4 linked regions of the Homo sapiens genome follow. The protein of the gene in region 2 binds, or shares a complex with, the protein of the main gene of each other region. Each region holds a gene or a part of one and is shown on either strand. Other genes may lie near its edges.

Region 1 (4,630 bases), on a different chromosome or scaffold from region 2:
TTAGACAGAGAAGGAAACTGAGGCCTCCCAATTCGATGTTGGATCATGCTGCTCTCAACTTAGGGGAATTGCAGAAACATGTGATCTGAGAAAGCTGGCTTTTTAACTTGTTGGTGTACATTGTAAATATTGAAAACCATGACTTTGAGAATCACAAATCATAAAAGCTTCACATCTGTTTCTCCTGTGAGAACACACTTATAGACAGAAATACATAGAATGATATATATTGGAATTCATATCTTCATGATTTAGCTAGGATCTTTTATTCCTTTCATAGTAATAGTACGTTCTTGTTCTCAGTAGCTCTTTATACTATCTCTGTCCCAACAGAAGTTGCAGCAATTCTCAGCAAAGAATATTAGTATATATGTTTCTCTCTCTTTCTCTTTCTCTCTCTCTCTCTGTCTCTCTCTCTCTCTGTGTGTGTGTGTGTGTGTGTGTGTGTATACATATATACAATATGACTAATCAAGGGAATTGTAAGTATGGCAGAAGAATCAGATATGCTCATGTGAGTTGAGTAGTTATGTTTAGAGGTCAAATCTGGTTCTCAATTTCCTGGTAGCCAGGGCAGAAAAGGAAATGTGATAGCTCCTATATTTTTTATCAAATAGAAGAACATCCTACAGCTTTAAGACACAAAGCTTTTTTACTACTAAATGTTTAAAAAGAAAAAAAAGCACCATTTTTAAGAGGCTCTGAGAATTACATAAGGAATTGTTAGACCAGGCACGGTGGCTCATGCCTGTTATCCCAGCACTTCGCGAGGCTGAGGCCAGTGGATCAGTTGAGGTCAGGAGTTTGAGACTAGCCTGGACAGTATGGCAAAACCCCGTCTCTACTAAAAATACAAAAATTAGCCAGGTGTGGTGGCGGGCGCCTGTAGTCCCAGCTATTCGGGAGGTTGAGGCAGGAGAATTGCTTGAACCCAGGAGGCGGAGGTTGCAGTGAGCCGAGACCGCACCACTGCACTCCAGCCTGGGCAACAGAGTGAGACTCCGTCTCAAAAAAAAAAAAAAAAAAGGAATTGCTTTCTGTAACAGTTTTACTGAAAATTTAGATGCAATTTTCATATAATATTTTCTCCTAAATAGTCATTAAATGTTGAAGGTATGGCCCAAAGTACAGCCCAGTGAAAGTGATTTGGGAAAGGACCAAGCTACTGAACTTTTTACTGAATGATTAGCATTATTGGATTTGAGGATAGAACAATAAATTCCTAGATCAATGCTCCTAAAATGCAGTATTGCGATATACTACTGGGTCATGATCTATTAATACCTTCCCCAGAGGTAATTATTATTCTGATTATCACCATGGTTAGGCTTACCTCGGAAGAAATGGAATAATACAATATGAACTTGCTTGTCTGGCTTCTTTCCCTTAATGTGTCTGTGAGATTCAACCCATTTGTCAGTGTACCAATTACTTATTGTATTGCTGTGTAATTTTCTGTATAGTATTATATGAATATAACACTATTCATTTTTCCATTCTCTTGGACATTTGGGTTCTTTCTGGTTATTGGCTATTATAAGCAAATCTTTTATGAACATTTCTGTGTATGTCTTTTGGTGGCTATACAAACTAATTTCTCTTGGGAATATACCTAGGATTGGAATTACTAGAGTATAGGTAGATGTATTTATCTGTAAGTAGATGCTGCCAAACAGTTTTCCAAAGTGGTCTGTTTTAAGATGTCCTTCAATTTGGGGATGATCAGAAGCTTTCCACACAGCACCCTTTACAAACAAAGATGCCTTTATGTCTTGTAATGGTTACTGGGGAAGAATGTTAAATAGTCATGTGTCTTTTGCTATTTTTCTCCTTTCTAGCATCAATTCCTGAAGATTGCCAAGCCCCTCTCCAGCCTCACTCCACTGATTGCTGCAGCTAAGGAGGCAACAAAGAACAATCACTAAAACCACACTCACCCCAGCCTCATTGTGCCAAGCCTTCTGTGAGATAAATGCACATTTCAGAAATTCCAACTCCTGATGCCCTCTTCTCCTTGCCTTGCTTCTCCCATTTCCTGATCTAGCACTCCTCAAGACTTTGATCCTTGGAAACCGTGTGTCCAGCATTGAAGAGAACTGCAACTGAATGACTAATCAGATGATGGCCATTTCTAAATAAGGAATTTCCTCCCAATTCATGGATATGAGGGTGGTTTATGATTAAGGGTTTATATAAATAAATGTTTCTAGTCTTCCGTGTGTCAAAATCCTCACCTCCTTCATAACCATCTCCCACAATTAATTCTTGACTATATAAATTTATGGTTTGATAATATTATCAATTTGTAATCAATTGAGATTTCTTTAGTGCTTGCTTTTCTGTGACTCAACTGCCCAGACACCTCATTGTACTTGAAAACTGGAACAGCTTGGGAATGCCATGGGGTTTGATAATCTGCCAGGGACATGAAGAGGCTCAGCTTCCTGGACCATGACTTTGGCTCAGCTGATCCTGACATGGGAGAACAACCACATTTTTCTTTGTGTGTGCTTCTAGCAGCTGTTCGGGAGGACCTTGACCCAATAGTGTTCCCATGCTGTTTCTTGTGAAATGCTCTCGGCTATGTAGCAGCTTTTGATTCCCTGCATACCCTAGGCTGCTGCCCCTATCCTGTCCCTTGTTTATAACATTGAGAGGTTTTCTAGGGCACATACTGAGTGAGAGCAGTGTTGAGAAGTCGGGGAAAATGGTGACTACTTTTAGAGCAAGGCTGGGCATCAGCACCTGTCCAGCTCTACTTGTGTGATGTTTCAGGAACTCAGCCCCTTTTTCTGCCTAGGATAAGGAGCTGAAAGATTAACTTGGATCTTCTAATGGTCCAAATCTTTTGGTCACAATAAAGAGTCTCCAAATTAGAGACTGCATGTTAGTTCTGGATGGATTTGGTGGCCTGACATGATACCCTGCCAGCTGTGAGGGGACCCCGTTTTTAAGATGCATGGCCAAGCTCTCTGCAAATGGAAATGCTTACACTGGGTGTTGGGGATGTTTGCTACCTCCTGCTATTTTTGTGGTTTTGGTTCTCCCACTATGGTAGGACCCCTGGCCAGCATTGTGGCTTGTCATGTCAGCCCCATTGACTACCTTCTCATGCTCTGAGGTACTACTGCCTCTGCAGCACAAATTTCTATTTCTGTCAATAAAAGGAGATGAAAATATTCTATTGGAGTATGCCTTTCTTTTTTCTCTTCGTTTTTTCTTTCCTTTTCTAATTTTTTATATGAAATAATGAGTAGTTTCTTCCTGAACCATTTGAGAGTGGTAAGTTGCAGATAGAATGCCCCTTTACCACTATATACCTGAATGTGTATTCTTTCTTTTTAACACTTTTATTTTAAATATAAATTAAGAGAAATGGGCCAAAACCATTTGTATTGTTTAAAGAATAATTATAAACACACTTGTATCCACCAAATCAAGAAATGGAACACTGACAGTAAGAACCTTCTCTATCTTGTCCTTCCTTTCTCATTATAGCCCCCACCTAAGAGGTAACCACCATCTTGACTTTTATTTAAATAACTTTCTTGCTTTTCTGTATACTTTCATCACATTCAGGTGTGTTCCAATACAAGTAGATTTTAGTTCGGCCAGTTTTTGAACTTTAAATAAACATATCATAATAGATATATTCTTTTGTGCCTGTTATTGTTTCCACTCAAGATTATGTTTTTAAAATATATGTACCTAGTTTGTGTGTAGCTCTAGTTCATGTATTATTCCGGCTGTAGGCACTTGAGAGGAAAGTTAACTTGTCCAAGATGAATTCCCTGAGGACTGGCCTCCCAAAGGATTTGGTTTTCTGCAGAACTCTATCATAATGGACTACAGCCAACTGCTCAAGGCAGTCATACCTGGTAGAATTCTCAGGTGGCTAATTAGGCCATGGGTCTATCACATCCTACAGCTACAACCATAAGGCTTGAGCCCCAGCTCTGATCACACCAGAGAAAATGCTTCTCAAAGATGGCACAACAGAGCTAGAGGCCAGTGTTCTGTCGTGTGGTTTTACTATTGGATCCCAGCACCTAATACTACTAGAGAAGATGTAGTGCTTCTTAGGTGTGCAAAATATAATCCCCATGGCTCAATGCCTGTAGTCCTTCTCCGGAGTATGATATCTGGGCCCTACTACATTTCTTTGCCCCAGAAGGTGATGGGCATTAGAGTTTCCACACTCTGGATAATGTTCCTATAACCACACGTTTCCACCAATAAAGCAGGCTCCAAAAGGTCTGGAGTGGATACTGCCTCATCAGCTGCACACTTCATAATGGCAGCAGTAACTGTGTATTATGGAAACCAACCAAGGAATTAGAGAACCAAGATTCACCTTGGGTGAGAAAATGCCCTCTTGGCACAGGAGCTGGCCAGCCATATTCAAAGACTGGGATTGTGGGTCACTGACTGGTTGCAGGAACAAAACCTGCCAAGCCAAGGAATTTAAGAGTTATATTTCTGAGAATGGAGATCTAGGGGTGGGGGATGTCACCCAGGATGGTATTCCAAGATTGTTTTTAAGAACCTTAGAGTCACCTTTGAGGAGACTTTCACTGCAGCAAGGCTGGACTACTAGCTCTGATTAAGTTCCTGAGAATCTTAGATTCAC
Region 2 (9,052 bases):
TCCTGTCTACACACCTGGCTGTGTCAATAGGACCTGCCTCTCCTAATGCAGCCTAGACACAAGTCCTTTTCCTTCTCTCCTTGGCCTATTTGGTTAGCGTTGTGCTCGCCACCCTGGCGCCACTGTCTGTCTACCATGCTTGGGCCATCTGCAGTCCCTGAGGGCTTCCGGCCGCTTTCTTCACAGCTTCCCCTTTCTCTTCTGAGTGTCTCTTGGTTCTAGCTGAGGGCCTGCTTCTCACATCTGCCCATCTCTGTTGAAAAGACTAGTATTTACCCACATTTCTTTATTACATTAGTATGTCACAACAACCCACACATTTACGCTTTTTCCTCTGCATATTTACATTTGAGTCTGTGAAATCTACAGATAATCAGCCTCGTTTTTCCTTTTTCAGTAATATCTCCCACGGCTTTCCATCACCCACAGAAAAGTGAGATGAGGGACGATGTTTGCTTCATGCATGATTTGAAGAAAGGACAGCTGCTTTAGTACAAAAACCAAGTAATTGAAATAAGGGACCAGTCCTGTCCATATTGGTCCTTCTAATTTTCAGTTGAATATTACCTGAAATATAAAGGCATACCTACCGCAAAATGAATCTAGAGGAAATGTTAGTGTGTTTTCAGGAAAGGTTGTAGCTCTCATATTAAAAATTGTAAGCTTAGAATATTTAGGATGATCACTGATGAAGGGAAATCAGGTTTATCCTGCTTGGAGGATCACCTGAGCCCAAGAGGTTGAGGCTACAGTGAGCCATGATTGCACCATTGCACTCCAGCCTGGGTGACAGAGCAAGACCCTATCTCAAAAACAAAAACAAAAACCTGTCTCAAGAGGAGCTGCCTGTTTATTTAATTTCCCCATCCTACAGTTCTGGAATTACCCACCAATCCACCTCATCACCCCTGCCCATCCAAGGTTAAAAATTGACCTCATGGCAGATCCTGCCATACTTTTTTGGAACAGAAAGGCAGACAGTTGCCTTGATTTCAAAATATTGCCCTGCTAAATAAACACAAAATAAAAATAAAATTGATGTACTGGATTGTTCTTAAGATAAATACTTCTAAGAGCTGGATTCGGAGCAAATGAGGTGGGCTGTCAATACTCTGCTTCCAGTGTTGAAGTTCTGGTGTTTAAGGTGTTAAAAGAAAGCTTCAGACAAATTAAATTTAATGGAGTTTAATTGAAAAAGAAAAAAATAGTTTGTGAATCAGGTGGCCTCTAGAATCACAGCAGATTCAGAGAGATTCCAGGGATGCCTCGTGGCCAGAACAAATTTATAGAAAATAAAAGTAAAGTGACGTACAGAAATCAGAAGTGTGCAGAAAGAGCTGGATTTGTTATGGGTTGGCGTTCACCTTATTTGAACACTCAGCAGTGTATGAGTGGTTGAAGTATGGCTCCTGGGATTAGCCAAGACTCAGCTATTGTTATAGACGCATACTCCTAAGTTAGGTTTTCAATCTTGTCTACCTGTTAAGTTATAGTTTGTCCACGAGGACTCAAATATGCAAGTACGGAGTCCTTCTCAGGCCATATTTCATTCACTTTAACAAAAGATAAAAAGAAATTACATAGTCTAGACAAACATAGGTTAAACTCTAGAAAACATCACTGTGTTCCTTGAGAAAACAGTAAGAAGATACCATCACTGTCTTATACGTATAAATTAGCAAGTAGGACAAAAATACATACCAGATCAAAAAACTGCCAACTTAAACATTCACACAGAGCTTCCTGCCCATTTCTTTGGATAATATTTGTTTTGAAAGAGATAAGAAGCCTCCCTCCAAGACCCTGTGCTCCCTCTTCTAGCTTTCAGTTCATGCTGCTTCATCCACCTCATTGTGCACCACACTTACCCTGCAGCTGTCTTTGTTAACTTATTTTCCTCCACCCACCTTCTCTGTCTACCTCTTATTGTGTTTTACTTTTGTCCCACCTCTGCTACCTACTCTGCTGTGATCCCTTCTCTCTGAGGATCTCATCTTTATGTCCTGTGGGAATGGGGTCGAGCCTGGGGGTCTGGGAAGGTTTCCTTCCCACTGAGTCCTGGAAAGGCTCTTTTCCAGGGACTGAGGTAGCAAGGAACAGAACATCCCTTATTAAAGACCAGACACTGACTTGGCACTGTACCTATGCTGTCTCATTTAATGCTCACAATAATCTTTTCTGGAAGCTTTAGTTTTCTTTTTTACAAATGATTTGAAAACTGAAGCCTGGAGGCATTAGGTAATTTATCTAAGGTTAACACAGGAAGTGCAGGGTTGAACCAGGACACAAGCCCAGATCTGTCAGTTGCACGATGCTGCCTTCAGATTATGTCAAGTGAAGCAGAAACAAACTCTTGAGTTAAATCTATCAATACTCAGAAAATGAAACAAATAGAGTTTGTTAAGAGCTGTAGTTTATGCAACGATTTATCCTGATAATCTTAATAACGATATATTTTAAATTATTATTTCTGAATCCAACTTACATTAAGATACTTTTCTAAAAAATTAGAGCACCTCTTTTCATAACTTGGAATGTTTTCTTTGAGAAATTCTATTGGAAATGGTGAGTAGGTTACCAGTTGGCTCTCAGTTGCATAGTGAACCTTCTATGGGTAAGAACTTTGGTATGAATATCACAGTTTCTCCTTGTTTCTTTGGAGACTGCATCAGATGCCAACTAGGAACTGAATGTACCAGGAACACAGCTATCCTTTTACCCACTTCACCCCCGCCCCCTTAGAAGGAAGAGGAATAATAGTAACAATCACAATTGTAGCAACAACCGTGAACATTTACTGAGAATTTGTTATATGCCAGATATTCTAGGCGACCTCACCTATGACTGTTTCTCAAATTTTCATAGTTTACAAAAAGTGATTACTTTTCTGATTTGCATTGATTATGAAATTATGCACATTTGCCAACTTTTTTTAATGGGGGTCCATACATGTAAAATATAGGCCTGTTAATATCTGTATCCCATATTTATATCTTTGACATTTATGGTCATAACAAGAAATATCAGGACACATCTCTGAAGATTTTGGCAGACAATCTGTGGTGGAGGTTTTGAATTCTTGTCGGCAAGCACAGTCTTCCAAAGCTTAGCTTCTGGACCTGAGGGTCTGTGAACCTGCAACATCAGTGTCATCTGGGAGCTCATTATAAATACAGTCTCAGAACTCACCCCCGGGGCACTGGACCAGTATCTGTATTTCAATAAAATTAGGGGTGTATGTGCTTATTATAGCTCATGTCTAGAAGGTCATCCTAGGCCTGGCACAGTGGCACATGCACACACCTATAATCCCAGAGCTTTGAGAGGCTGAGGTGGAAAGACCACTGGAGGCCAGGAGTTCAGAGACCAGCTTGGACAACATAGCAAGACTCTGTCTCTACAAAAAAAAAAAAAAAAAAAATTAGCCAGGCATGGTGGTGCATGTCTGTATTCCCAGCTGCTTGGAAAACTGAGATGGGAGGATCGCTTGAGTCCAAGAGTTTAAGGATGCAGTGAGCTATAATTGGGCCACTACACTCAGCCTAGGCAACAGAGAGAGACCTTGTATCTAAAAAAATAAAAATAAAAAAAAGAAGGTCACCCTGTGTCACCTCCTGTCAAACAATATATTTTTCTTCTGCAGATTACTGGAAGAATTGGTTCGGAAAGAGAAAGAATTACAAGCACTCCTTCATCGAGCTATTGAAGAAAAAGACCAAGAAATTAAACACCTGAAGCTTAAGTCCCAACCCATAGGTGAATAGCAGAAAGTTTTATAGTAATACTGTTCAGCCAGGCTGCCACAAAAAGCCAAGAAAGCCAACAGGAAGTTTTATTTGTGGCTAAGTCAGCATTTCTCACTTCTACCATGACTGCAAGCAGGAATTCCTTTAAAAAAAAAAAATCCAGTTTTTAACTGTAGCAAACTCATTTCTTATAAGTGCAGTAAAAATAGATTATTCATAATCATCTTTTCCTGAGATTATGTATTACTGAGGTAAACAGGGCTCTCTGTTTTTAGTCTTTATTTTTAAAGATTTCACAATGAGCTTACTAGAATAAATAATACTATTTTTTGTCATTTTGCATTTATATTCTGTGTATTCTAGCCTTTTTCCTTATAATTTGAAGAGGCTTAAATAGAATAAAGATGTAGTAGTAAAAAGGCATAGCTGGGGAGAATGTTATTTAGCCCATTTAGAGGAAAACAGAATTCATAGTTATTTGTTTAGATATGTGGCTCTTTCATAGTGGAAAAAGAGATTATGATAATTATATAGTTCTCTGCTAATTGTATTCATCTTTATTGCATGAAAAACACAAAGTCTAATTTTGGTGCACAGAGTTTATTCTAAGAAACCATAAAATTGATATGAAAGTGTAACGTAGGAGTGTCATTTCATTATTGCTTTTGCTCCTTATTTACTAGTAAATTCACTTCTCTGAGTTTTATTCATATTATCATCTATACTGCCAATCTCAATTGTTTCTATGAACTGTTCTCTGATAGAGCAAAATCTTTTAAAGTATCAATAAATGTCTGTTGATTGTGAGGGTCTCAGATGACCTCTGTTAGGTGAAATTAAGAATATCTTCCCAAAATTCTGTTCTAGAAATTCCTGAATTGCCTGTATTTCATCTAAATTCTTCTGGCACAAATACTGAAGATTCTGAACTTACCGACTGGCTGAGAGTGAATGGAGCTGATGAAGACACTATAAGCCGGGTAAAGAAAACTGTCTGTGGGACAAGTATTCTTTCACTTCGTTTCATAATGTTGGGTGCCTGCTATGTGACAGGCACAGGGGATACACTGGTGAGCAAATCAGACCCAGCCCTGCCCTCCTGAGGCTTACAGACCAGGGTAGGCACGTGATAATCAGCTAACTCCACAGATACAAATGTGATTCTACACTGGTAAATTCTATGAAGAAAAAGGTATCAGGTGTTTATTAGATAGGGCGAGAGAGGTTGGGGAAGGTTGTTGGAGAAGGGAATGAAAGAGCTGAAGGCTAACAGAATGTGAGGGTATAAATAGGCCAATTGTATGTATGTTCAGGAGGGGTGTGGGAGGGAGACCAGGGAAGAACCTTGTGCAGTGGGGCTGCAGTGTGTACAATCCAACGAGGCAGGCAAAAGCTCTGTGGTCCTGAGCCCCTTAGGAATTTTATGTATTTGAAATGAAAACCAGAAAGAGTGGGAAAAAAATAAAGACAGGACTAAAAGAAAAAATTTCTTGTTTCTAATTCTTTGTATGTTAATTTTTATTTTATTTTATTTTATTTTATTTTATTTTATTTTATTTTATATTTTTTTGGAGACAAGGTCTCGCTCTGTTACCCTGGCTGGAGGGCAGTGATCATAGCTCCCTGCAGCCTTGACCTGCTGGGCTCAAGTGATCCTCCCACCTTAGCCTCCTGAATAGTTGGGACTACAGACATGAACCATCATACCCAGCTAATTAAAAAAAAAATTTAGAGATAGGGTCTCGCTATGTTGCCCAGGCTGGTCTTAAACTCCTGGCCCCAAGCGATTCTCTCACCTCAGCCTCTCAGAGTACTGGGGCTACAGGCATGAACCACCACGCCAGGCCTGTTTGTTAAATTTTTAATTCTTTTTCAACATTATTAGATTCCACTGGGCAGCAGCTATTTTATTGCTACTTAATAAAATCAATCTGGTCGACTTATTTCAGAAATATTTTCTATACAAACCATATTTTACCTGTAATAATCTAATTCCTCTCTGCTCTGTATAGACTTTTTTTGATTTTGTTTTTTGAGACACAATCTCACTCTGTCGCCCAGGCTGCAATGCTGTGGTGCGATCTCAGCTCACTGCAATCTTTGCCTGCCAGGCTCGAGAGATTCCCTGCCTCAGCCTCTCAAGTAGCTGGGATTACAGGCATATGCCACTAAGCCTGGCTAATTTTTGTACTTTTAGTAGAAACAGGGTTTCACCATATTGGCCAGGGTGGTCTCGAACCCTGGCCTCAAGTGATCTGCCCACCTCAGCCTCCCAAAGTGCTGAGATTACAAGTGTGAGCCACTGCGCCCAGCCCCTATAGACTTTTGTAATGAGCGTGAATAGCATTTGTTTATGTTCATTATATGAACACACAGGCATACATTAAAACATTGTAATATTTGATAGAAAGACCCTCTTAATACAATATTGTTTTGTTTTATATTTAAATTTTAAAAATAAATAAGAATAAAGATATCTCTTCTTTTGACTTGATAATTTATTAACTAAGTAGAATTTCGGGCCGCCTTAGAAATCTACATTTAACAAGTTACAGCTGAATAAATTTAAACAACTCCAGAATATACATTCCTCTAACTTAGGCTCAAATCCTAATTAAGGAATAGTAATTGATAATCTACTAAATAATCACCCTTTTTATTTGGTTTAAAAGTAAAAGCTTGAGGCCAGGTGCAGTGGCTCCTGCCTGTAATCCCAATACTTTGGGAAGCATAGGCAGATTGCTTGAGGCCACGTGTTGGAGATTAGGCTGGTCAATATAGTGAGACTGTCTCTATATATAAAAAAATAAATAAAATTTAAAAATATAAAGGTGCAGTTTAAATTAAGACTCTGCTTTTATGGTGAATTACAGTCAAGTGCCTTTGCTTAACCATGAAAAAATAAGTTCAGAAATTAAGCATAGGCAGTACCTTTCCAGGAACACTTTTTATCCACTTGAGGAAAAACAAAGCTATGTAGCATTGAACTTCTAAATACAAGATTTGCTTTTGAACAGCAGAGTGATTACAAGTGAGTCTCATCTGTTCATTAGAAGACCATTCAGAAGTTCTGTGTCACTTGTAATCTTTTTGCATTTGGAAGTTAATATGGATGCATTTCTTGTTTTTGTTTTTGTTTTTGTTTTTGTTTTTGTTTTTTTGAGACGGAGTCTCACTCTGTCGCCCAGGCTGGAGTGCAGTGGGTCAATCTCAGCTCACTGCAACCTCTGCCTCCCGGGTTCAAGCGATTCTCCTGCCTCAGCCTCCCAAGTAGCTGGGATTACAGGCATACGCCACCACGCCCAGCTAATTTTTTGTATTTTTAGTAGAGATGGGGTTTCACCACTTTGGCCAGGCTGGTCTCGAACTCCTGACCTCAGATGATCCGCCTGCCTCAGCCTCCTAAAGTGCTAGGGTTACAGGCGTGAGCCACTGCGCCCGGCCTGGATGCATTTCTTTGTATTTATTGAGTAACAGGGAGGCCTTTCCCCTAATAATCCTGGAAGATTGTGTTTTTAGTAGATTTCATTTTTAGATTCATTTTTAATTATAGTCAAGGTTTACATTATGAATAGAGTTTGTGCTTTATTAAAGTTATATAAAACATCTTTTGTGCATATTCTACTTTCTCTACAGTTTTTGGCTGAAGATTATACACTATTGGATGTTCTCTACTATGTTACACGTGATGACTTAAAATGCTTGAGACTAAGGTACCACTTTTCTTTCTGTTGTCACTATGGAAAGAGCACCAGGCAAATATCAAAAAGTCTGAGTATCTTCCCAGGCTGGGTCTCTAATTAGCTTTGTAGTTCTGGACAGAGCTCTCTAGCTCTTAGCTGCTCTGAGTAAACTGAGTTAGTTGGACAATGATATTTTTGAGGGCTCTAATAACCAATATTTCTATATTAGTAAGTGAAAATCAACTGGAAGAATTTTTTTGAATAAGATGCAGACTAAGTCCATGCAGATATTCTGAAGCTGCCTTAAACAAATGCTTTAATTGAGTTCATGATGGTGTTATACTCAATAAATATTTGGAGGAGGTGCTGACTTGCCCTCCAAAAACCTGGTATAATCTGATATAATTTCTTGTTAATTAAGGCCAAGCATATAACTTTTTTTTTTTTTTTCGGGATGGAGTCTCACTCTGTCACCCAGGCTGGAGTGCAGTGGCGTGATCTCAGCTCACTGCAAGCTCCGCCTCCCAGGTTCACGCCGTTCTCCTGCCTCAGCCTCCCAAGTAGCTGGGACTATAGGCGCCCACCACCACGCCCAGCTAATTTTTTTGTATTTTTAGTAGAGACGGGGTTTCACTGTGTTAGCCAGGATGGTCTCGATCTCCTGACCACGTGATCTGCCTGCCTCGGCCTTCTAAAGTGCTGGGATTACAGGCATGCGCCACCGCGCCCAGCCCAAGCATAAAACTATTATACCCACCATTATAAAGACAAATTTCAAAAATGCTGAAACTCTAAAATGATGTTTTGGGACATAGCAGTTTGTGGGAGTGAAAAGGGAAGGAATGGAGGGAAGATGAGAAAAAATATACAAAAAGAATACATAATAACTGATCAGACTTTGGGATCTTCTTCTGACCAGAGCAGATGAAAGCTAAGAAGTCACTTTTCTATTTCAAGGGCAATGTTTCAAATGAAATGTTCGTTTCACCATGTTCTTGTGTCTTTAAACAGGGGAGGGATGCTGTGCACACTGTGGAAGGCTATCATTGACTTTCGAAACAAACAGACTTGACTGTTGCTCAATCTAATCTTCGATGGAAATTCTAAAAATTAATACAGAGCTGATCTTCTTGGGGGTGGGAAAATCGAAGGGAGAGGAGAAAGGCGCTGCACTTTAAATCCAGTATTTGTTTACTCATGTTAAAAAAAAAAAAAACAGACAAAACACACTGAAATTTCCTAACTACATCTATTTCTATAATTTTTAAGGACTCTTCATAAGGACTCTTAAAATAATCCTGAACATTAGAACCCTAATGTTCAGGAAGATTTTAATCTAAGCATTTTTATGGAAATATTTTTAATGCAGCAGCTATTGCACTTCAGCCAAATGTTTATTTCACACAAAACGGATGTAACATTTCATGTGATCGTGCACCACTGGAACAAAACCAAAATGTGACCATAACTGTTTAGGCTTCTGTGTGTTTGTAATATGCTCTAATAATCTGAGTAGAAATGCGTAATTTCAATTACTGTATAAAGTTTATGTTTTTTTAAGTGTGCAGAATCTGAGAGCAATGGTTTTTACTTCTCTGTGTTAATTGTAATATTGACTCTATT
Region 3 (9,052 bases), on a different chromosome or scaffold from region 2:
AGGACCACAGGTGCACACCACCACACCTGGCTGATTTTTAAATTTTTTATAGAGATGGGATCTCATTATATGTTGACCAGGCCTGTCCTCAATCAATTCTCCTGCTCCAGCCTTCCAAAGCGCTGGGATTATAGACATAGCCACAGCGCCTGGCCTATCCTATTTTTTTCTTTTCTTTTTTCTTTTTAAGAAACAGAGTCTTGCTGTCACCTGAGCTGGAATGCAGCAGTTCAATCATGGCTCACTGCAGCCTCGAACTGCTGGGCTCAAGTGCTCCTCCCGCCTCAGCCTCCGGAGTAGCTGGGACTACAGGTGTGTGCCACCATGCCTAACTAATTAAAAAAAAATTTTTTTTTGGTAGAGACAAGGTCTTGCTATGTTGCCCAGGGTGGTCTGAAACTCGTGGATTCAAGCAATCCTCCCACCTCGGCCTCCCAAGGTGCTGGAATTATGGGCATGAGTCACTGTGTCTGGCCTCTATTTTTTAAGAACAAAAATACCCTGGACTTTAAAAAACTGTTTTGCAATTAAACTAAAACCAAACAAACAACCATCCGCACCCCCCTGACCAAAATCCAGGATTACATCCTATGGCTAGAAGCAACTCATAATGGGCCAAGTGTGGTTTCAACTATCTTTCTTTACATAAAAAATAAGAAAGTTGAGGCTAGGTACGGTGGCTCACGCCTGTAATCCCAGGACTTTGGGAGGCTGAGGCGGGCCAATCACGAGGTCAAGAGATTGAGACTATCCTGGCCAACATGGTGAAACCCTGTCTCTACTAAAAATACAAAAAATTAGCCGGTCATAGTGGTGCATGCCTGTAGTCCCAGCTACTCAGGAGGCTGAGGCAGGAGGATCACTTGAATCTGGGAGGTGGAGGTTGCAGTGAGTCGAGATCGCGCCACTGCACTGTAGCCTGGCAACAGAGCGAGACTCCATCTCAAAAAAAAAAAAAAAGGAAAGTTAATTAAAAGATATTATAGAAGTGCAATATCTTTCTTTTGAAGAAAATGCTTATTATACAGATTTTTAATTTTCAAACAGTCTCTAGGCTGGCCACAGTGTCTCACACCTATAATTCCAGCACTTTGGGAGGCCAAGGCGGGAGGACAGCTTGAGCCCAGGAGCTTGTCAAGATCAGCCAGGGCAACATAGTGAGACTCTATCTCTACAAAAAATAAACAAAATTATCCAAGCATGGTGATGCATGGCCTATAGTCGTGGCTAATTGGGAGGCTAAGATGGGAGAATGTCTTGAGCCTGGGAGGTAGAGGCTGCAGTGGGCCAAGATTGTGCCCCTGCACTCCAGCCTGGGCAACAGAGAGACCCTGTCTGAAAAAAGAAAAGAGTCTCATTATTACAAGTGCTCATTCAAAAGTCTGAAATTTCGTTCATTATATCATACTCAGCAGATAGCGGAGACTCAGAATCAGGATTAAATCCCAACACTGAGGCCTAGCTTGCACCCCTGCCCTTGATTGCCAATCTTCTGAGTCTTCACCTAAAGATAAACAAAGGGGCCGTCTGAAAAAATGTGGCAGCTGAAGGGAGCCCATCCAAACACCAAGACCCATGAATTCATGGGTCACTGCTTATACCAGCTCCATCTGATGAGATGATAGACAAATGCAGATAAGAGAACAAAACTCTAATTCAAAGAAGCTCCACCTATTGCAGACAGTTTTCAAAATCAGAAAGAACACATGATAAAGTAAATATCAAAGATTTAACCAAATCCCAAAGGGTTTCATTTTAATCTACCCATAGACGATATTTTATTCCATAGTGTGAAAGAAGTTTATTTAAAACAGAAACTATCATGCTATCTATATTCCTTTTGTAATATTGATATAATTCAAAATAATGTCAGATGTTTAGATTGCCCACCTGACCCTAGAGTTCCTTTAAAGTTTTGTGTTCAAAGCTAATGTCTTATTTCCTACTTTCTCGTTGTGGCTACTTAACCTCTCAGCCTGAGTAAGCCAGGCCACTTACTGGAGTATCTGCTTTAGTGCGCAGCACCTACAGTTTCTGTCCCGTGTGGTACCTTGATACAGTTATTACTCAGGATGAGTGACAGAGCCCTGGACTTACTAGGTACCTATGAGAACACTGAAAGGGCTCTACAAACAGAACAAAGTATGTACGTAGAAAATCCGCTTGTCATCAAGGGTAGAAGAGGGGAATGTAAGGTAACTTCTAAATCAGAAAGCCATTCTTGAAGTTAGTTCTCATTTGGTTTCCTAAGAATCGATTAATTTATTAGAGAGGTGACTGCTCCTCCAAATTTAACTTCCATAGATCCATTCATTCCTCCTAATTCTCTGTGAGACATTGAAGAATTTGGTACAAACTTGAAACTTCTCATGGGCTCTCATGTACATTTCTCCACCCTGGAGGTGGGACTTCCTTTGTTATCAGAATGTAGAAGGTCTATGTAGTTTATGGTGAACATGCCTATTTTTAGTCAGAAGAAACTATCTTTCAGAACACTTTTTTCAAACTTTTTCCTGAACTCCAAATTCTTGAGTTGTTAAAGGGCAGTATGCAAAAAATGGTCCTGCAGTCAAGTCAATCTGGGAATTGGTGTTATTGTTTTACTTATTGCAGGACCTCTCAGTTTTGAGCTCTGTAAAGTCCCAAGAGGATGGGAGGAGGAAGAGTCATGCTAACAACAGTACCTTAACTCGTTTTGCCAATTTGAAGCTTTTTTCAGGATCACTGATTAATAACTTAGTAGCTGGTATTATAGCAGAACTGTATGGGAAACAGGGTCTTTTGGACAGTGCTTTTTCACATTTTGTTCCTTGAAGTTCTGGTGAGGTGAAATAGGCATGAAAGGAAAGCACTTAATTCAATATTTAATGAAGAGTAAGGTGACAGTATAATTCTGCTAAAACAAAGTTCAGCAGTAGAGAGCTTGTCTCACTCCAGTGAAGTGTGGGGGCTTTGAGGTGCCAAGTAAAATTCCAGGAGAGTCATAACCATGAAATGCCCACTGCTTGCACATAGTAGATGGTTCATAAGCAGGTATTGAATAAATTAACGAAAGTACCACAATTGCCATTTTATTCAACTTTTGGGAGAAAATTTTATCAGCTAATTTATAAACTAAAATGCACAACAGAAGAGAAAGAAAACAGTGAATTTCAGAAAAGCCTCTCATTTGGGTAAAATTCCAAATGAAGCTTAATGAAGGTTGTGCATCTACCACCAATTACAGACCATGAGTGTATTTTTTAGTATTATGTGGTACAAACTATCAGAATACTTTTCAAAGCCTAAACAAATTCCTAGGACCACTGAGGATCCTAACAGAAACTGCAGTGGTGAAGAAGAGGCACGAAGCTTTACCAGAACTAGCTGCTGCGAGCTAACTTCTGCACTCCAAGACCATCTTCTCCCATAGTAATCTTATAGGAATAGAAAAAAGCATTGTAAATTTTCCTGCCAAAAACAAGTAATCTGGGGTAAGCAAGTTCTTTCCTTATGTTTTAGGTTTAAAATTGTAAGACACATCTGTTTTAAAAAAAAAAAAAGAGAGACACAGGGTCTCACTGTTGCCCAGACTAGAGTGGAGTGGCACAATCATAGCCCACTGCAGCCTCCAACTCCTGGAGTCAAGTGATCTTCCTTCCTCAGCCTGCCAAGTAGCTGGGACTGATTACAGGAGTGTGCTAACACGCTCTCTTTTTGAACTTATATTTCTGCCGTCCCTGGAGGCCAGCTTCCCTAGTAAAATAGTCTCCTGCAGACCTCCTCCTCCCGTTTTGGTCTTCCCTGGTCAGCACCCAAGTACCCAGAGAGCCTCACCCTCTCATACTCATCCTTGGCTCTGCTCAGCATCTCCAGGATGTCGATGGGCCTGTGGTCGCTGCAGCCATTGGCCTGGCTGGGACTCTGTTTGTCCCGAGCAGCTTGCTGGGATCGCCGTGTCTCCTCTTCTACCACACTAGAGGAGAAGAACAAGGTTTTAGAAAGGCCTCTTGAAACAAAATCTGACCCAAGATTTCTTTTGGTGTTCATCTTCCAAGGATACACTAAGAGTGTCACATGATGACATTCTTCTTTTTTTTTTTTTTTTTTGAGATGGAGTCTCGCACTGTCGCCCAGGCTGGAGTGCAGTGGTGTGATCTCGGCTCACTGCAAACTCCACCTCCTGGGTTCACACCATCCTCCTGCCTCAGCCTCCGGAGTAGCTGGGACTACAGCGCCCACCACCACACCCGGCTAATGTTTTGTATTTTTAGTAGAGATGGGGTTTCACCGTGTTAGCCAGGATGGTCTCAATCTCCTGACCTCGTGATCTGCCCTAGGCCTCCCCAAGTGCTGGGATTACAGGCCTGAGCCACCGCGCCCAGCCGATTACATTATTCTTGCAATATATAACACAGAACTTCAGTTACCTCATTTCAGAAATAAATGACTTACCATTTCACCGTCTCATTAACAGTGCCAATATTTACCCTTCAGAAGGATAAAAATACAGAATTCCTTCCTAGAGTTGGCAGAGATGCATTACAAACTCCACTAAGGTTTCTCCCTTTTTCCCTTGAAGTATTTCAAAATCAGTCAAACTAATTGCTAAAGTAAATATGAAAACTGACAGTTCCACCAAGACACAGGAAGGCTGCATAGTTGAACAAATCCTCTGTGGAAAGTTTGGATTGACACTGGGCTAGCAAGGACAAAGTCAGTTCTTGAAAATAGAGGTCTTGGTGAATCCTTAAAAGTTAGTAACACTATAAGCAAATAAAAGGTTTCCCTTATTCTCCCTTTTAAAAACCACCAACTTAGCCTGGGCAACTTGGCAAAACCCCGTCTCTACAAAAAATACAAAAATTAGCTGGGCGTAGTGGTACACGCCTGTAGTCCCAGCTATTTGGAAGGCTGAGGTGGGAGGACTGCTTGAGTCTGGGAGGTAGAGGCTGCAGTGAACTGAGATCACACTACTGCACTCCAGCCTGGGTAACAGAGTGAGACCTTGACTCCAAAAAAAAAAAAAAATCACTAAGTGGGCTTTCAGTTTTTAAGAACACCCCCTTCTCCCTTGTAAAGAAAGATCTGAAACAATTACAGCAAAATATTAGGAACTGAAAGCTGGGTGGTAAGCACATACATATTTTATTATTTCCTATATTTTTCTTCAAGCTTTCAAGCTTGAATAATAAATTTTAATAAAGCAACTTTTTTTGTTTTTTTTAAGATTCATTCAGGCCAGGCACAGTGCTCATGCCTATAATCCTAGCACTTTGTGAGGCTGAGGCAGGACGATCACTTGAGCCCAGGAGTTTGAGACCAGCCCAGGCAACATAGTGAAACCCTGTTTTAAAAAACAAAAAACCCAGCCTGCACAGGAGCTCTCATTAGAGTGTGGGGAAGAGGTGAACAGAGATGGCTTTTTTATTTAAAAATACTGGGTTAAACAATATTAAACCGACTTAAAAAAAAAGAAAAAACAGAATCCTTGAGTTTTATTATTATTTTTGTAGAGATGGAGTTTGATATGTTGCCCTGGCTGGTCCCAAAACTCCTAGTCTCAAGTGATCCTCCTGCCTCAGCCTCCCAAAATACTGGGATTAAAGGCATGAATTACCACAACCCACCCATTGAATTTTTGTTTGTTTGTTTTATTTATTTTTTTATTGTACAGACAAGGTCTCACCATGTTGCCCAGGCTGGTCTCAAACTCCTGGCCTCAAGCAATCCTCCCACCTCAGCCTCCCAAAGTGCCGGGATTATAGACATGAGCCACCACAACTGGCCAGTTGATTTTTAAGCATGCTAAAATTTATTGTGATTCTCCAAGAAGGGCAGGCCTATAGATTTTCTCAAATTTTATTTGACTATAGAATTTTACTCTGAGGTAGAATTCCTGTTTGGAAAATGTGGCTTTAAGGTAACATGTAGTTTTTCTATCTAGATTCATAATTATAGCTCTTAATAAGACTATTACTTCTAAAACAAATGTAGCATCATGAGCTTCATGGTAGACTGAAAGACTGGTATGGGATATGAGAATAAGACCAAACATGAATTGTTTATTTAATGCTCAAATATAGGCCACATCAGCCTGAATCCATCTTCATAAAGGATCTGTCACACGGCCTGTTTTCCACCTACCTCCTGACATGTTGCCTGACTTGGCCATGCTGGTATTTAACTCTTCCCTGACCCAGACTAGGATCTGTGATTCTGTGATTATTTTGGTTTAAGAGAAGAATATTTCTTTTCTTTTTCTTTTTTTTTTTTTTTTTTTTTTGAGACAGAGCCTTACTCTGTCACCCGGGCTAGAGTGCAGTGGTGCGATCTCGGCTTACTGCAACCTTCGACTCCCGGGTTCAAGCGATTCTCGTGCCTCAGCCTCCCTAGTAGCTGGGATTACAGGTATGCACTATCATGCCCGGCTAATTTTTGTATTTTTAATAAAGACAGGGTTTCACCATGTTGACTAGGCTGGTCTTGAACTCCTGACCTCAAGTGATCTGACCACCTCAGCCTCCCAAAGTGCTGGGATTACAGGCGTGAGCCACTGCGCCCAGCCAGAACAGGTAATTTTATAAAGCTCACCACTGCTGAAAGCAGAAGCTGTCGGGGGTGGTAATGGAAGGGACTCTCACATAAACGAGGCTTGGACTCTAAGGCCTCTTCTAATCCAAACTTTATGGATAGCACTCATGCCATTCTCCTTTCCTTTCAAACACCAAAACCTACCCCTAAGATGTCTGTAAGATCAGGAATAAAGCTTACTTCCATGAGTTCTCCAAAGTTTACATAGTCTATGTGGCCAAACCGTCAAACAACTTTTTATTGTTAAAAAGAGTTTCTGAGGCCGGGTGTGGTGGCTCACGCCTGTAATCCCAGCACTTTGGGAGGCCAAGGTGGGTGGATCATGAGGTCAGGAGTTCAAGGTCAGCCAGGTCAAGATGGTGAAACCCTGTCTCTACTAAAAATACAAAAATTAGCTGGGTGCAGTGGCAGGCACTTGTAATCCCAGCTACTCGGGAGGCTGAGGCAGGAGAACTGCTTGAACCCAGGAGGGCGGAGGTTACAGTGAACCCAGATCACGCCACCACATTCCTGGGTGACAGAGCAAGACTCTGTCTCAAAAAAAAAAAAAAAAAAAAAAAGAGTTTCTGGCAGACTGGATTTCCTCTTTAGGAGAGTCAACAGCTTCTAAGTTTAGTGGGTTTTCAACTCTGCCACCACTGACCAGAGAATATACAAATTTAGATGACATAGGGTCTAGAAGCTCACTCATTTTCCTACATAGTTTCTCGTTTTTATAAACATTGTTTGGAGTAAATCAGTTTGTTGTTTTTTTTTTTTGTTTTTTTTTTTTTTGAGACGGAGTCTCGCTCTGTCGCCCAGGCTGGAGTGCAGTGGCACGATCTTGGCTCACTGAAAGCTCCGCTTCCCGGGTTCACGCCATTCTTCTGCCTCAGCCTCCTGAGTAGCTGGGACTACAGGTGCCCGCCACCATGCCCCGCTAATTTTTTTGTATTTTTACTAGAGACGAGGTTTCACCATATTGGCCAGGATGGTCTCGATCTCCTGACCTCGTGATACGCCTGTCTTGGCCTCCCAAAGCGCTGGGATTACAGGCGTGAGCCACCGCGCCCAGCCTGGAGTAAATCAGTTTTTTTACTTGGAGGATCTTTATTATATTGTGGCTGTCAAATAGTGATGGGAAGAACTGTATTTAAAAGAATGGGCACTGATGGACACATTTATTTATATGTATAATATACTAACAAGAACTGTGCTAGTATTTTTGGATAGTAGAGGTGATATTCTCAAATATGTAGCAAACAACAACAACAAAAAGTAACAAACAGGTTTATGCAGGCAGATTTAGAACAAAGACAGATAGTCTTCTTTAGTTTTGGTGACCAGAGAGGCATTTATCACAAAGTTAATGGTAACATACAATATTCTCTTCAGCTATAAATAGGCCAGACACTTAAAACTCATTATCAACAGTTTCACCAGGGTATTCTCTAATCACTTTTTTTTTTTGAGATGGGATCTCACTATGTTGCCCAGATTGATCTTGAACTCCTGGGGCCCAAGTGATCTGCCCACCTGGGCCTCACAAGTATTATAGCTGAAATGACAGGTACACACCACTGTGCCTGGCTTCTCTAATCACTTTCTTTTCTTCTTCCCTTTTTTTTTTTTTTTTTTTTTTAATTAAACAGAGATGAGTCTTGCTATATCAGGCCAGGATGGTCTTGAACTCCTGGCCTTAAGCAATCCTCCCCGCCTTGACCTCCCAAAGTGCTGGGACTACAGGCATGAGCCACTGTGCCCAGGCTCAAATCACTTTTAATAACACATCTGTTTCTAGTCAAACAAGCTGAAAATTTAAGCAATTGTCCCTTTTCGGGCATTTCTGGTGAAAGAAGCCCCAATGCTCTTCTTTTCCCTTCCAGCTTTCCATTTCTACTCCTAATCCTATTTCTGGGTTCAATAAAATATTTTTAGATAGGCCTTCAGTCTTCAGCTTCATTTATCATTTGAAATCTTGCATTAGGGGTAACACTTGCCCTGATAGATAAACGGTTTTCTTTCAATAGTTGTTAGAGCTAAAAGAGCCAGATCATTTCACTCAAAGCCCACGTCCTCATTCTGCAGGAGAAAGTGTTTATATATTAATACATTCCAAAGTTTAGAAAAAATCTGGATTTCTGGATAACCATGAATCAACAACCCTGTGCCTTTTTGTTGTTGTTGTTGTTGTTTTTGTTTTTTTGAGACAAAGTTTCACTCTTGTTGCCCAGGCTGGAATGCAATGGCGCGATCTTGGCTCACCGCAACCTCCAGCTTCCGGGTTCAAGTGATTCTCTCGCCTCAGCCTCCCGAGTAGCTGGGATTACAGGCATGCACCACCATACCTGGCTAATTTTGTGTTTTTAGTACAGACAGGGTTTCTCCATGTTGGTCAGGCTGGTCTCGCACTTCCAATCTCAGGTGATCTGCCCGCCTTGGCCCACCAAAGTGCTAGGATTACAGGCGTGAGCCACCGCGCCCAGCCAACCCTGTGTCT
Region 4 (9,068 bases), on a different chromosome or scaffold from region 2:
CAAGCTGGAAAGATGGTAGGTTGTTTAGAAAATATAATGTTGGGTCGGGCACAGTGGCTCATGCCTGTGATCCCAGCACTTTGGGAGGCTGAGTCGGGTGGATCACAAAGTCAGGAGTTCGAGACCAGCTTGACCAACACGGTGAAACCCCGTCTCTACCAAAAAGGCAAAAAAAATTGGCCAGGCCTGGTGGTGCGCGCCTGTGGTCCCAGCTGCTCAGGAGGCTGGGGCAGGAGAATCGCTTGAACCTGGGAGGTGGAGGTTGCAGTGAGCCAAGATGGCGCCACTGCACTCCAGCCTGGGTGACAGAGCGAGACTCTGTCTCGAAAAAAAAAAAAAAAAAAAAAACTAATGTTGGAATTCATGACTTAGGAGACAGAGAAATTTGTGTGATAAAAAAGTACAAGGTGTAACCTTCCAAGAGGTTAGCTAAAGTGGAGAGGAAGTATACATTTAAGATAACAAGGTGTATCAGTTGGTGTCCAATCAGAACATAGACACTACATAGTATTTTTTTTTTTTTCTTGAGATGGAGTCTGGCTCTTGTCGCCCAGGCTGGAGTGCAATGGCACGATCTCAGCTCACTGCAAACTCTGACTCCCAGGTTCAAGCGATTCTCCTGCCTCAGCCTCCAGAGTAGCTGGGATTACAGATGCCCGCCACCATGCCTGGCTAATTTTTGTATTTTTATTAGAGACTGGGTTTCACCATGTTGGCCAGACTGGTCTCAAACTCCTGACCTCAGGTGATTTGCCCACCTTGGCCTCCCAAAGTACTGGGATTACAGGTGTGAACCACCGTGCCCAGCCTACTACATAGTAATTTTAACAAGAAGAGTTTAACATAAAGAATTAACAATAACAGGGGATTGGAGTGTTGAAGAATTGGTTAGTAATAAATAAAGGAAACTCTAAAAAGTATGGGATAGCAGATATAAATAGCAGACAATATAAAAATAATATGTAATGGCCGATACCTCTAGAGCTGTGATAACCCTCCTCTCCACCCACGGTCGAGATCCAGGCCTTATTGGAGAAGTTGCTCTGGTGCTGAGTTGGTGGAACTTGTTGGATGTACATTCTCTGGAACTTGCTGAAATATACCCCTCTACGGTGCTGGTTCACATGGAAGGTGTCTGTCTCATCAGAGATTCTTTGCTGCCTAAACACTCAAGGGTAGTGCCTGGGGAGGTTGCTACCTACTGTTTGTTGGGAAAACCAGTGCTGCAGAAGGTGGGCAATAGGAAAGCTGGGAGCTCAGCAGGAGCTTGTGGAGTGAGCGCACAGAAAACAGGAAGTAAAACCCCTTCTTCCTGCAATGTCTCTCCACCACTGCCTACTGATAAAACTTTGTATCATGCCAGCTGGCAAAGTCAGAAATATTTCAAGGTCCCAGGTCCATTTCACAGAATAGGCATAAAGGGGAAATGAGAGGTAATAAATTGATTACAGGTTGAGAAGTTCAAGGAACTGAGAGGTCTTGATGTTGGATTGTTGTTCTTGTGGATATTGAAATGACCCAAGTGTTGGCAGAAATTAGAGTGGTGTAGAAGGTTAGAGACCAATAAACTCATTTCTCTAAGTGTGACCTTGGTCTATCTGCATCAGAATCAAGTGGGATACTTTGATAACACAAATTCCTTTTTCCCACTGCAGATCTTCTGAACTGGAGTATCTGGGAAGAGAGCTCCCAAATATTCTTTTTTAGTAAGTGCCTTAGTAGATTTGAAATGAAAGAGAATCGGTTAGTAACATTTTAAACACACAAAACTAAATAGTAAAACAGGTACCAGTGTACCCAGCATTCAGTCTTAACAAATGTTCACATTTGCCTTATTTCCTGAAGATCTTTTGATTTTTCATGAAATGTTACCTATTTTAGCTTAAGTTCCACTCTCACCTTCCTTTCTCCTTTATGCCTCACAGGAGATGATCATATGAACATTGTTTTTTGTCAATTCCTGCTTTAGGCAATAGAGAGCCTTTGAGGGTTTTTGAACAGGGGTATTAACACTAGAGGTGTTTTTGGAAAATCAACCCAAATGTGCCCTGTTAGAGAGTTCATTAGGATGAGAGGATGGAGGTGGAAAGCCCTTGAAGAGGCAGGTTCAGTGGCCCAGAGGGTGTGGTACTGAGGATCTGAGGTAGGGTGAGAGATCTTTGCTTTTTTTTCTCATGCTCTTGTGTGAAGCCTGCTCTTTGTGTTGCTGTGACCCCCAGTCTTTGAATTCCCCCTCTTCCCCTATTCCCTCAGTTCATCAGCTCCTTTCTAGCTTCATTTGAGTCCCTAACCAGCCTGGGTTTCATGGGTACCCATTTCACCTATATGCTTGCCACTGCCCTGGAATTCCTTGCTTTGTTGACATTTTACCACACCAACTGTAACTTCCAATCTTTATACAAATAGAACTGGTTCTTTTGCCTTGAGGCAGTGGCCTTGCCATTCTGATATACTTTATTACTCATAGTAATATTTGCTATAGTGAGTGTCCAAAATGAGGCAGAGTTTTATCCAGATGACCTTGGTGAACTCAAGACTGTTTTGGAGGAGGCTGGGTTCACAAAACTTACTCAGGCTTTGTTCTTCATCAGAAGATGTAAGTGATACCTCAATAATACTGCCAGATTTTGTTTGTCTGTAGAGTAAAATTTTGATGAGCAGTTGTGAAAACTGTTCAGATGACATATAAAAATGTGTTTAAGTTCGTCAGATTTGGGAATTTTATTTATCAACAAATGTATTCTGTTTTTATTTCCATTACATAGATTTGGCCATGGGTCAACGTCAATGAAAACTTTTGATTGATTATACTTATTTTGCTTAAGTCACAAGTACATCAAGCAAACCTTGTTATAGAACTATGGACAGACACAATAACATGAATGAGTATGAAAATGATGATGTTGAGTTAAGAAGCCAGAAAAAAGATAGTACCATACTGTGTACTTCCATTTATATAAGATTCTTGAAAATGCAAACTAATCTATAGACACTGAAAATAGATTGGTGGTTGCCTGGCATTTGGAGGCAAAGAGGAAAGAAAGAATTGAAAGGGCACGAGGACAATTTTGGGGGTGATGGAAAGGCTTATCTGGATTGCATTTGTGTGATTGTATCAAAGATGTATGTATATGTCAAAATTCATTAAATCATATATATGCAGTTCCTTATGTGTCAATTACAGCTTAATAAAATGGTAAAAATCATTAACAAGAAAAAATGTTTGTTTTAAGCCATTTAAACCAACCAACAAACAAAAAATCCTTGCTATAATCAGTTACTGTCTATATCAGGGACACCATCTGAATACATTCATTTATTCATTCAGCATTTTTTAACATCTACTGTGTATACCTGGCAGTCTGCTGGTAACACAGTGTTAAATAAAAAAAAACAAGACCCCGAGTTTAGGAAGTTTACATTCTTGTGGAGGAGTCAGATCATCAGATCAACAAGTGATAATAGTAAAGTGTGACAAGTGTCCTGACAGAGCAAGAAAGGGCAGCTTTGAAAATGTTTAGTAGGGTTATCTAAGCTGATTCTTTGGTAGTAGATGCCTGAAGCTGTGTTGAAAAGAATTCTGAGGCTTAGTAGGAAAGAGCTATACATGATCTGATGTCTCCCATGCACGAGGAGAGGTAATCATGGTAAGTGCCACACATTTGCCAACATAGGGTTATACTATTAAAGTTGGCCTTATCATAAATTTCCCAATAGTATGCCTATTTCAAGTGGTTCTGAAAATGTTTGAGAATGATGAAGATCTCTTGTTATAGACAGTTTTTTTTTCAGAGCAGTATTTTAAGTGCAAAGTGTTTTTTTGTTGTTGTTGTTGTTGGGAAAATAAGAATCTTCCATATTGTAGTGTAGACAGAGGACAAGTGCTCTTTTGTTCTCAAACATTCTATTTTTTCAAGTGTATTTTACCCACTTATGTGACTGAGTCTGAGCCTTTGCTAAGGGTACTGCAGCTGGATTATGTAGTGGAACCAGGTCCAGAAAAAGAATTGCTAAAGAATGCAAGTAAACAGGATGTCAGATGTTATCCTTAGCCTATTTCCCTAAACATAGCTTTTTGGCTGCAAAGTAAAATGCCATTCTTCTAGCTTCTGCTTATACACAGTGATGGCTGACAGCAGGCATAATCTTCGTTTGCTTGGCACGTTGTCACCATGCAACTCAACGTGTTTTGCAAGGAATGATCGTGACACACCATCTCTGGGAGATACTATGAGGACATCCGGCTATTTCTTGGAAGAATTTTCTGTCTACCTTCTTTGAGCCCTGTTGTGCCAGCACATCTCCCCATGAGGCTCAGATCTGTCTGACCTAAGAGCCAGTTGGCATCGTCCTCCTAACAGAAGCCAGATTTTCACTGGGGCTAGACTATTTATTGACAGTGTTTTCCCAGACTGGCCCATGAGTGTCTCATTTCCAAGGTCCCCTGAAGTGCTGGCTCACCTCTGTTTCCCAAAGCACTTGCTTGCTTGTCTCTCCTCCCTCCCCAGCATCCTTTTCACTTTCTTCCCTTATAACTTCTTGCACTCTGTGTGCGTGTGTGTGTATGCGTGTGTGCATGTGCGTTTCTTCTTTTTTTTTATCCTAACGAATTTGTTTTGCAGGTTTTGAAAAGGAAAAACCAGCGTTATCCAGGATTGTTAAATTAATTCTTATCTGTTTCCACATCTTGGACCGTGATCTCTGTGGTTTTAAAATCCCATATTTTGAGTGGGTTCCGCTGTTGTTTAAGAAAAGTTGCTTTAAACCTTTGCTCTGCAAGCACCCGAAGAGAACTCATAAAAAGGAAGACAACAGCAGATGCAATCGCGGATGTGGCTTAGTCCTTGCAGCTGCCCCAGAGTGCTGTTTGGAGTGTACCGTCCTCAGTAATGAATCCAGAAGAACAAATCGTGACATGGCTTATATCTTTGGGAGTTTTAGAGTCCCCTAAAAAGACCATCTGTGATCCGGAGGAGTTTTTAAAGTCCTCGCTGAAAAATGGGGTAGTTCTGTGCAAACTGATCAACAGACTCATGCCTGGCTCTGTGGAAAAGGTAAGGGAAATTTGCAGTCTCTTTGGGATTGCTTATCACCAGAGAGCAGCAATCATGTAACTCTTGAGATTTTTCTATTTCCCAGGCCATGGGAATCTCCTACTTTAATATTTTTCTAAGAGTTAGACATTCTTTCTTACTGTTTTTGTAGTTTGAAAATGTAAGAAAATGAAACGTTATTCTTTAGTAATTGGCCCCCAAATTGTAGTATAGGGAAAACCTGTGACACCACTGGCAACAAGGGACAAGGAGAACACTCATATCACAAGCTTGCTCTATCATGGAGATGCATGTTACATCTCCTTGTGTACCGAGGACATGTTTTGAACTTGGGGTACTTATGAGTCTGTGGAAAAATAGAATGATTTATAACAGATCTTGGTGGTGTTTATTGGCAGTTTGATTAAAATCAGTGTAGATTTCCTTTTAGAAAAATCCATTGAAGGAGAGACTATATAGCAACTAGGAAAAAAATAATTCAAAATGTCACATAAAGTTTGTAAAAGCAATAGAAACCAGATATATGTTTCGAATGCAATGTGCGTTCAAAGTGAAACTAACTTTACTCTCTTTAAAACAATTCAAGATTTTTAATAGCTGGAAATCCACGATCACGAGAATAGATAATTTCTAAAGTAGGCACTTTAAGTAAGCTTAAAGGTACAATTTTACATTTACTTTCTTAAGGTCATCATGGACTGTGAGCATAGCACTTTTGCCTTCATGAGCCAGTTTGTATTTTTATTGAGCAAATAAATTTACTTATAATTTCTTAAACTTGAGAAAGAGTGATTAAATAGTGATAAAATGTAAAGAAGTGTGGTCAAATGTAGAGGGGAAATAGAATTTTATTAAATTATCAGGGGGAAGGAGGAGAGAGAGGTACCAGGGATTGCTTCCTTTCTTGAAAGCAAGAACTAAGCTCAAAAAACTGTCTTGGTCTCCCTAATTTGCCATCAGCACACTGGAACAGAAGGCATGAGAGAAAGCTTGTAAGTAGACATGGCTTGCCACTAAAGGTTTGGTGACATTTGAAACAAAGATCGACCGTTTAGATTTTTGCATCACTTCCTTCAGTGGTTATTTCTCTTCCTGGATTGACAGCAGTGTTGCCCCACACCTTAAGAGGCCTGCTTTCTCTAGTTATCAGCAAATGATGAGTATACTTTGCTTGGCATGGGATGACAATCTCCAAGTGACATTTCACTGTGTTCCTCTAGTTTTGTCTGGATCCCCAAACTGAAGCTGACTGCATCAACAACATCAATGACTTCCTGAAAGGATGTGCAACCCTCCAAGTGGAAGTAAGCCTACCCCGGGTGCCTTCCCTGTTGTCATCGTTTTTTTGCTCTGCTAATCAAGATTGGTAGTAAGAGTACTTGTTTATTTTCACTGTCATTGGCCACTGAGTTAAACAGAGGTAGCAGACTGGTGGTCCCCAGTAATGGATTGCTAGTCTGTCTTTTCCAGAAACCAGTTCCAAGCAAAACAAAACAAAATAAAAACTCACACAATAATGCCTTTTATATACAGCATCCAAGCCCTGTAAACAGGCTTCCAGTGACAGAGCTTGTGTGGGTGTGTTCTCCTACTAAGGGGAACCAAAAGTGGGCCACTGACTGTTGGAGAGGGTCACTGTAATCCTCCCAAGTTGAGAAAAGAGGAAAGGCCATTGTTACTCCTTCCCATTAACACTTTAGAACAGAGGCCTTGAAAAGCTGAGAGAACTTGGCTTTGAGGTAGAAATTGTATAGTAAATTTTGTGGCATTATTTTATATTATATGGATCCCTACAGTGTGTATAGGAAGTGTTACTGAAAGGGAGGTGATACTTCCACACGAGCATCAAGTTGCTTAACTTCTCTGTGCTTCAGTATTTTTATCTGTAAAACGGACATGCTAATAGCCAACTCATGGGATTGCTTTAAGAATCAAATAAGGCCGGGCATGATGGCTCATGCCTTTAATCCTAGGCCAAGGCAGAAGGATTGCTATAGCCCAGGAGTTCGAGACCAGCCTGGACAGTATGGTGAAATGGTGACTCTACAAAAAATACAAAAATTAGGCAGGCGTGGTGGCTTGTGCCTGTAGTCCCAGCTACTCGGGAGGCTGAGGTGGGAGGATCGCTTGAACCCAAGAGGTGGTGGAGGTTGCAGTGAGCTGTGATTGCACCACTGCACTCCAGCCTGAATGACAGAAAGAGACCTTGTCTCGAAAAAAAAAAAAAGAATCAAATAAGATACTGCATAATAATTTAGGGCCAAGAGCTCCAACCTTGTAAGATCTATGAGATAATTTATGTAGAGTCCTTAGCATAGGGCCTGGGACAGAAGAAGTACTCTATATTAATAGACTAGTATTAGTCATATTATCCGTGGACAAATAGTTGTGGTTTAAGCATGGACTGTGGTGCTAAACTTTTTGGGTTCAAATCTCAGTTCTCTCTTACTAGCAGCTTTGTGACCTTGGGCATGTTACTTAACTATGACTCTAGGCCTCAGTCTTCCTACCTACAAAATGGGAATAATAGTGGCACCGAATTCATAGGACTCGTGTGACCTTTTTAAAAAATATTATTTCAATAGTTTGGGAGGAACAGGTAGGTGGTGTTTGGTTACATGGATAAGTTATTCAGTGGTGATTTCTGAGATTTTGGTGCATCCATCACTTGAGCAGTGTACACTGTACCCAATGTAGAGTCTTTTATCCCTCACCCTACTCCCACCCTTCCCCCTGAGTCCCCAGAGCCCATTACATCATTCCTATGCCTTTGCATCCTCATAGCTTAGCTCCCCCTTATAAGTGAGAACATATGATGTTTGGTTTTCCATTCCTGAGTTACTTCCCTTAGAATAATGGTCTCCACCTCCACCCAGGTTGTCGTGAATGCCATTATTTTGTTCCTTCTTATGGCTGAGTAGTATTCCATGGTGTGTGTGTGTGTGTGTGTGTGTGTATGTATACATATTATATATATGTATATTACATTTTCTTTATCCACTCTTTGGCTGATGGGCATTTAGGCTGGGTCCATAACTTTGCAATTGCAAATTGTGCTACTATAAATATGTGTGTGCAAGTGTCCTTTTCATATAGTGACTTCTTTTCCTCTGGGTAGATACTCAGTAGTAGGATTACTGGATCAAATGGTAGTTCTACTTTTACTTCTTTAAGGAATCTCCATACTTAAGGTTTTCCATAGTGGTTGTACTAGTTTACATTCCCACCAGCAGTGTAGAAGTGTTTCCTTTTCACCACATTCATGCCAACATCTAATATTTTTTGTTTTTTTTTTAATTGTGGCCATTTCTGCAGGAGTGAGGTGATATCTCATTGTGGTTTGATTTGCATTTCCAGTGCTTAGTGATGTTGAGCATTTTTTCATATGTTTCTTGGCCATTTGTATATGTTCTTTGAGAATTGTCTATTCATGTCCTTAGCCCACTTTTTGATGGGATTATTTGTTTTTTGTTTTTGTTTTGTTTTGTTTTTTGAGACTGAGTCTCACTCTGTTGCCCAAGCTGGAATGCAGTGGTGTGATCTTGGCTCACTGCAACCTCTACCTCCCTGGTTCCAGCGATTCTCCTGCCTCAGCCTCCTGAGTAGCTGGGAATACAGGCGCCCGCCACCATGCCTGGCTAATTTTTGTGTTGTTAGTAGAGACAGGGTTTCACTATGTTGGCCAGGCTGGTCTCAAACTCCTGACCTCAGGTGATCCGCCCGCCTGGGTCTCCCAAAGTGCTGGGATTACAGGCGTGAGCCACCGCACCCGGCCTATTTGTTTATTTTTATTTCTACTTTATTTATTTATTTATTTATTTATTTATTTATTTATTTATCTATTTATTTATTTTTGCTGATTTGTTTGAGTTCCTTGTCGATTCTGGATATTAGACCTTTGTCAGATGCATAGTTTGGGAATATTTTCTCCCACATTGTGAGTTGTCTGTTTACTCTGCTGATTATTTATTTTGCTGTGCAGAAATTTTTTAGTTTAATTAGGTCCCATCTATT

What was found.
Region 1: MAP3K5 (region 2) and PAK1 share a complex: the UniProt entries of both Homo sapiens proteins name them as parts of the cytoplasmic complex.
Region 3: MAP3K5 (region 2) and DCP1A share a complex: the UniProt entries of both Homo sapiens proteins name them as parts of the cytoplasmic complex.
Region 4: MAP3K5 (region 2) and ARHGEF6 share a complex: the UniProt entries of both Homo sapiens proteins name them as parts of the cytoplasmic complex.

Annotation. Positions count from the first base shown.
Region 1 is NC_000011.10:77,320,569-77,325,198, reverse strand, and holds the end of PAK1 (serine/threonine-protein kinase PAK 1), read left to right. Parts: intron 1-1,838; coding exon 1,839-1,925; 3' UTR 1,926-2,044; coding exon of another isoform or gene 2,045-2,062; 3' UTR 2,063-3,182; downstream 3,183-4,630. UniProt on the Homo sapiens protein: Protein kinase involved in intracellular signaling pathways downstream of integrins and receptor-type kinases that plays an important role in cytoskeleton dynamics, in cell adhesion, migration, proliferation, apoptosis, mitosis, and in vesicle-mediated transport processes.
Region 2 is NC_000006.12:136,557,207-136,566,258, reverse strand, and holds part of MAP3K5 (mitogen-activated protein kinase kinase kinase 5), read left to right. Parts: intron 1-3,643; coding exon 3,644-3,756; intron 3,757-4,613; coding exon 4,614-4,726; intron 4,727-7,382; coding exon 7,383-7,459; intron 7,460-8,440; coding exon 8,441-8,501; 3' UTR 8,502-9,052. UniProt on the Homo sapiens protein: Serine/threonine kinase which acts as an essential component of the MAP kinase signal transduction pathway. Plays an important role in the cascades of cellular responses evoked by changes in the environment.
Region 3 is NC_000003.12:53,308,425-53,317,476, forward strand, and holds part of DCP1A (mRNA-decapping enzyme 1A), read right to left. Parts: intron 3,956-9,052; coding exon 3,817-3,955; intron 1-3,816. UniProt on the Homo sapiens protein: Necessary for the degradation of mRNAs, both in normal mRNA turnover and in nonsense-mediated mRNA decay. Removes the 7-methyl guanine cap structure from mRNA molecules, yielding a 5'-phosphorylated mRNA fragment and 7m-GDP.
Region 4 is NC_000023.11:136,776,704-136,785,771, reverse strand, and holds the start of ARHGEF6 (rho guanine nucleotide exchange factor 6), read left to right. Parts: upstream 1-4,839; 5' UTR 4,840-4,889; coding exon 4,890-5,054; intron 5,055-6,274; coding exon 6,275-6,358; intron 6,359-9,068. UniProt on the Homo sapiens protein: Acts as a RAC1 guanine nucleotide exchange factor (GEF).